Regions from separate parts of the Homo sapiens genome. Here region 1 is reported to be linked to region 2. Evidence: microRNA targets listed by miRTarBase, many of them from high-throughput screens and not tested one by one. Region 2 holds a microRNA gene; the other region holds the end of a gene's coding sequence. Distances are from middle to middle.

Region 1 (3,297 bases), 27 Mb from region 2:
GGAGGCTGAGGCAGGATAATCAGTTGAACCCAGGAGGCAGAGGTTGCAGCGAGCCGAGATTGTGCCGCCGTACTCCAGCCTGGACGATAAGAGCAAAACTCCGTCTCAAAAAAAAAAAAAAAAAAGGCAACTGAGGTGAAAAGAGTCTTGGCTATACTACTGAAAAGGAGGGACACTAAAATTTGTTGGTCTCTTTGGGTTACAACTGGGCTGCATCAGTGTGCTTTAGAGTTACAGGAATATCCCGAAATTGAGAATCTGATGGGACTATACAATTTTAGAGCCAGTTCTACAGGTGAGACATAGACAACTTGTTCTGCTTGTCTGAAAACTTGTCTATAGAACTCTACAGAGAGGCTAAGAGGGAGTAAACTATCCTTTCTTTCTAGATCTTCATCTGCTGGTGGACGTGGCCTGCAAGCAGGAGCGCTTTCCAAAGGAGGAAGAATTAAAAGAGTGAGGAATGGATGACAAATGTGACATTGTGCACTAGCTGTAGCTGGAGGCAGACTAGCCTTGCACATGACAAACTGTTGGGATTTTTTCAGTTCTGTTAAGGAAAAAAAAGTATTTTTTGTTTCGTTAATTGAGAATTTTGTTAATTGAGAATTGGGAATTTGTATGTACTACAGTGGTTCAGTTCAGATTATCTGCCTTGACAAACTACTGAACATCTAGCAGCCACGTTTTTTGGCTGCCCAGATCCCTTTTAAATGAAAAGTTCTGACCTTCTGTTATAGTCAAGGAGCATCTAAAAACTGCTCCATCTATGGTACTAAGAATAATCTGTGTGTGTGCTGATTTGTTGTCTTGCCACTCAAACTGTAGTCAGCACAACTTTAGTGGGGAATTCAGTCTCTCTGATTCAAGTCACAGTGTGATCCTTTTAGAGGAGATTGTGTGAGAAACAAAGGCATGTGAGGTCACCAGCATCACAGGTCTAAATGCATCAGGAATTCCAGGGAAGAAACTCTGGAGAAGAGCTAATTTTCTAAGTGATTAACCAGGAAATTCTCTTACTTCCTAACCCAGCATTCTGTTTTAAGAGCAAGGCATCCGGACTTGGACCATCTATCACACTTAACAGCCCCTGATTCTTTTATATTAATGGAAGCATTCTTCTATTTTCATATCTTTCTTTAATTTTAATGATACATTATCATAAATGGTAAAAAGATTTTATTAATATATCACTTATTTAAATGTCTTTAAAGAAAGTATTTAACTTGTTTAATATAATTGTATTTATAAATGCTGATAGATTTAAAGGTTTTAAAGTTTTATATTTTTATTATTGCAGGATAGAAGGATAAAGGATGCATGTGTAGTATTTTTATTTTGAAAGGAAAATGTACAATGTGTGAACAAAAACATTAAGAGATTTAATATACTATTTTCTTATTTTAGATTTTTACATTCAATAAGTATAAATTCTCATCTATATAAGGTATTGTGTGCAAATTTGGGAAAAAACTGATTAGCAGCCATTTAGTAGAAGCTATGCCTCTGATTTTTAAAGAATGGTTTCAATCTGGTTTAAGCTTCTGAGAGAATTTTGGATAATGGGATAGATGGTAACATTTTTTTCTTATCCCTGTTACAGGATTCTAGATTTGTGCAGTAGGATTGTGGGACTGTGTTTTAGGAGAGAAGGATGTCTTGGATGTCCAGTTTCTGTGGTTAATCCCTTACTTGCTTATCCAGTGACAGCAAGAAACTTTCTGATTTAAAGTCTTTCAATTGACCAAAACTTTCTTATTGGATTCTGTTTCAGTTCTCCTATTAAGCACTGCAGAAACGAAAGGAAAGCCTAGGAATATGAAACTAATTAAAAAGGCACTTGGTGATATGACATAGTACTATGCTAGCCGTTGTGGATGTAACAGTTCATTTCTTATACTGCATTGTGCCTTCCCAATGATGTCAAACCCTAGAAATATTACAGAGATCTACTTTTCTGGAAAAGGGTGAGCTCTGTATTGATCTGCAGTGACTCTGTTTAGATATTAAAGTAGGTTCTGAAAAGCGACCTGTGTGGTCCCTCTGATTAGACTAGTTAATGTCTATGTGATGGGCATTTATTTATCTTTATTAGCAAGGTTTAAAAGAGCAAATTATCAAGACACCTATATCTTTTGGCCAGACTATATAATATTTTGTCAGAGTATGTGAAGAGGAGACCCAATTTCCAAATGAAGGAACTTTGCTTTTTCTCTGTCATGTTGAAGAGCTAATATACTGTGTAGATTTTCCCCTAAATATGGCTTTCTTAGCTTTATAGATGTTGAGATAATATCTTTTGAGGAACACATGTCAAGCAGGAACCTTGGCATAGATTTGGTTTCAGTTGTTTTAAGGCTTAATTAATGAAATGCCTTAATCAGCTTTCCAAACATTTTTATATATGAATACAGCAGACCAAGGAGCTGGATCTCCTGCTATCCTTACACGCCTTGTATCTATCAACTAAAGCTGTCATTAATGACTTGGGCAAAATGGCAAGAGGTATAATAAAGTCTTCCTGTGAATTAGCCAGTAGGGTCTGACACAACTAGTCAACTAACAAGGTTCCTGACTAGTACCTCAGTATTTCAGCACCTTAAGCACTGATAAATTTCAATCAGTCAACAATAAAGTGAGTGTTCCAACTAGACTTGTTGTCTTGCTTGTTCTTACTGTTTGGTGATTAATAGAAAATTCAATAATTATGACAGTTAATAGTATAATTCAAATGAGATTTACTTTATTTTTCAAATAATCTGAATTTTAAAAGTTTTTTTTCATTTGTACTTGAATAGCAATGGAATTTTTTAAATGCCGTTAGGGATAAGGACAATTCTTAGACATGTTTTACAGAAACCTACATTTTTGGAAAAGGATGAATGATCTTTGATAAATTTAATCAATCCAGAGGTGAAAGTAGATCCTGAAGGATGATCTATCTCATGTATAAGACTAGCTAGTAGATGTCATTGAGACTTAGGCATTTCATTACAATAGTGATGGCATCTTTATGACATCTCTAGGAAAATGTAGTAGTATATCAACCCTAGAGGGTAACTCCAAAACTTTGAAGCTGAAGAATAATTGCTCTTGCAATTCTGGTGATCTAAAACAGTGAACTAAGCTACATAGAGCTGTTTGGTTTGATCTTGAGTTTCTCCAAGTCTCCAGGTTCATGATGCATATCATCATCATTTCCAAATCTCAGAGTTTCCTCAAGAGAGGGCAACCACATTTGTAACTGTCTTCTTTCTGTCAATTAAGTGTGTGTATTAATTACTAGGGCTAGGTCTT
Region 2 (3,297 bases):
ATCCCCAACTACCTACAGCAACACAAAGTTAAACCAATTTCCACTGACAAAAGGCTATGTGTGCATTTATTCTAATCAGCCCCAGGATTTATTGTGTGAAACTCAGGCGATAAAAAGTCACCTCCTCAAGCTACAAAACTTTTTTTTCATCCCAAATATTCTCAATGAAAGTTCTCTTGTCAACCAGGAGAGAGTCAAAAACAACCACAAACACTAGCAGAATGATCCGCTCCAGGACCACATCCCAGCTGGCTTTGCTCTGTTGTCGGTGGCTCTGAAGCAGTTTCTCACTTTCCTTTCACCCTTCTCCCCTTTACTCCCCAACATTCTCACTCGAGAATGCATCACATCCTCAGACCGCTGGCAAAAAAAAAAGGGGGGGGGGAAGAGACTGCAATTATCAAGGAAGGGGAAGATATTTCAGAACCACGGTTTCCACTGCAAACGGCAATAAAAAAAAAAGGCAGTCTGTGTCATCAGGATATGGGGGACGACGTTGTAGGGCATCACAAAGATGTGCAGTGAGTGTGCACTTGAAGCTCTCGGGGCAGGATGAGACGATGGAGCAGAAAGTAAGAAAACCTGTGCCTTCCTTGCTTTCTTCTGCTCTTCCCCCTCCAGGAGAGGAAGCTGAAGAAACTGGGGGAGGGGCGGAATGTTATCGTTCTCCTATTGAGGGTATATAAGACAGGCCTTAGGGTTCGCTCGTCCCCAGTTAGGAGGGTCACGGAGGGAAGAGGAAGAGAGAACCCCTAAACGTTACCCACCTCTGCTCAAAAACAAAAGTAAGGGGGTAATTATTAAATCCAGATGGCGCGCCCCTAAAGGCGCCCCCAGGTCACTCATCCCCATTTCCAAGCGGAAGGGCTGGGATAAAGGGGATGGAGGGTCGGAGGCTGGTCAGGGACAAGGCCCCACCCCCCGACTTAGGAGGGAAAGGGTGCCCAAGCTCCCAGCTGTCCCCTCCTACCCCTCACCTCCCGCCTTGGCCACCCCCACTTATCCCCCCTTCCCTTCTCTTCCCTTCCCTTCCTTTCCTCCAGAGCCTGAGGCAGCCGCGGGGGAGGCGGCCGCTCCTACCTCCCCTCACCTACTCTGTCCCCACCCCCACTCCGCTCCCACCTCCCGCCCGCCACGGGCCGGTTACCTGCTCGTCGAAGCGGCTGACCACGGCCTGGACCCATTCCACCGGCCTGTGCGCGGCCATGTCCTCCCCGCGGCCGGGGGGCGGCGGAGGGAAGGGTGGGCCGGCGCCCTGGGCCGGGAAGAGGGCGGGGAGCGGAGGCTGAGGTGAGGGAAGAGGCAAGGAGAGGGTCTGTGGAGTGCAGGCTCCCAGTGTTCCCACGGGGGTGGGGATGGGGGGTCAGCGCCGAGCGGGAGGGGGAGAGGGAAAGGGGGCGTTGGCAAGGAGGCTGGGGGGAGGGGGATAGGGGAAGGGGACCCGGGGAGGGGAGGGGGCCTCTTGGTCGCTCTCCCCACTAGCGCCGTCTCCCCACAGCCATCACAGTCCGAGACGCCGCCATGACACCCCACCGGAAGTGGGATCCTTTCCACGGCCCGGGGAGAGGGAGCGCGAGCGAGCTAGAGATTGAGAGCGCGGCTGGGAAAGGGGAGGGGGAAGCGAGAGGGAAGGCGGCCTGCCGCGCATGCGCCCGCGCCGGCCGGTTTCATTAATGAAAAAGCGAGTCCTCCTGGAGGTGACGTCATCTAACTCCTCTGGGCCGTCTGGCGAGCGTCCCTCACCGCCGTGGGGCTCACCTAGACTGGCGCTGGGCTCAGCTGGCGAGTGCCAGAGCTGACCCGGGAGCATCCACTCCCATCCCCACCGCCCCCTACAGCTGTCCCCTCCCCCGCCGGCCTCCGGGTTTGGATTGCTCCCGGAGTTGGAAGTTAGGGCGCCCTGGGGCTAGCCTTTCTCCCAGCGCGCGGATCTCTGCCGCTAATCTCCTGGGGAGGCTGTGCTCTCAGCTTAAGCTCTCAGAAAAAATAAGGTACACGACCTCCGATTTTCAGGTTCTTCGTAGCTTGGTAGACTGCTGAGAAACAAAAAAGGAAGGCCAAAGAGAGATTCCGTGATTTTTTTTTTTTAGAGGTCGCTTAAATCCCAATGCTAGACCCGGTGGCAATCAAGGTCTAGCCACCAGGTCTAGCATTGGGATTTAAGCCCAGCTTTCCTCTGCAAAACTCATAGCCATCCAAGTTAATATAACTATTGCACAGTTGATGAGAGATTCAAGTTTCACCACCCTCAAAACACCTTTAAGGCCTTGCATTCATTATTAATTCAATATATTCATCGTCTTATTTAAATCCTTGAACAAACCTTTTCAATACATATCATTAACTTCATGAACTGATGAATACGTCACGTCCCCACCCCCGTGGGAACGCTGGGAGCCTGCACTCCTCCCTCAGACCTTTGATTTGCCCAAGGTCTGAGTTGACAGGTGGCAAAGTCAGGATGTAAACCAACGTGGTTTAACTCCTAGAACAATAGAGGTAGACTATGGGTCTCCTAAAACAAAGTCCTTCCCTATACCTCCAATACCAGAGTTGAAAGGATTTCATGTGTAATTGGGTTGTGCCAGTTTTCCAGGAAGAGGATTACATCCAAAACAACGGATAATCTATGTCTGACATTGGACTTTGGAATGACTAATTTTTTTTTTTTTTTTTTAAGACAGAGTCTCACCCTGTCACCCAGGCTGGAGTGCAGAGGCGCGATCTCGGCTCACTGCAACCTCCGCCTCCCGGTTGAAGTGATTCTTCTGCCTCAGCCTCCCGAGTAGCTGGGACTACAGGCATGCGCCACCACAGCCGGCTAATTTTTGTATTTTTAGTAGAGACGGTGTTTCACCATATTGGCCAGGCTGGTCTTGAACTCCTGACCTCATGATCCGCCCACCTCAGCCTCCCAAAGTACTGGGATTACAGGTGTGAGCCACCGCACCTGGCCTGGAATGAGTAATTTTAAAATTTGTCTTCCTCGATACATTTTACCTAGGCAAATGTTTTTGTTTTTCAGAGACAAGGTCTGACTCTGTGCAGTGGAGTGCAGTGGCTCAATCATAGCTCACTCCAGCCTCAGACTCCTGGGCCGAAGTGATCCTCCCACCTCAAGCTCCTGAATAGCTGGGACTACAGGTGAGTGTCACCCTGCTTTGGCTAATTTTTTTTTTTTTTTTTTTTTTGGTAGAGACACAGTCTTGCTATGTTGCCCAGGCTGGTCTGGAACTCCTGGCCTCAAGTGATCCCCCTGCCTTGGCCTCCCAAAGTGCTGGGATGACAGGGGTGAGC

What was found. The annotated mature microRNA hsa-miR-4733-5p reads AAUCCCAAUGCUAGACCCGGUG and lies in region 2 at 2,101-2,122, shown strand. An mRNA with a match to its seed (bases 2 to 7 or 8) in the 3' UTR can be bound and repressed. Matches are read on the target gene's strand: a 7mer-m8 pairs with bases 2 to 8, a 7mer-A1 pairs with bases 2 to 7 and ends in A, and an 8mer does both.
Region 1: the mRNA of HSF5 is a reported target of hsa-miR-4733-5p. Seed matches in the 3' UTR shown: 7mer-m8 at 534-540 and 7mer-A1 at 1,564-1,570.

The regions. Positions count from the first base shown.
Region 1 is chr17:58,419,523-58,422,819 of GRCh38, reverse strand. HSF5 (heat shock transcription factor 5) reads left to right here. Exons shown (of 6, transcript NM_001080439.3): 6 at 390-2,653. The coding sequence ends at 460. Among named protein-coding and RNA genes, the nearest start is that of RNF43, 3.6 kb to the right of the region's middle.
Region 2 is chr17:31,093,220-31,096,516 of GRCh38, reverse strand. MIR4733 (microRNA 4733) reads left to right here and starts at 2,092; the gene lies at 2,092-2,167. It overlaps NF1 (neurofibromin 1), which reads right to left and starts at 1,540. Exons shown (of 58, transcript NM_001042492.3): 1 at 1,148-1,540. The coding sequence starts at 1,207. It overlaps MIR4733HG (MIR4733 host gene), which reads left to right and starts at 1,027. Exons shown (of 4, transcript NR_186435.1): 1 at 1,027-1,290; 2 at 3,026-3,144. RefSeq lists silencers at 1,136-1,185, 1,226-1,295, cis regulatory regions at 1,151-1,461, 1,688-1,927, an enhancer at 1,530-1,547 and a promoter at 1,535-1,960.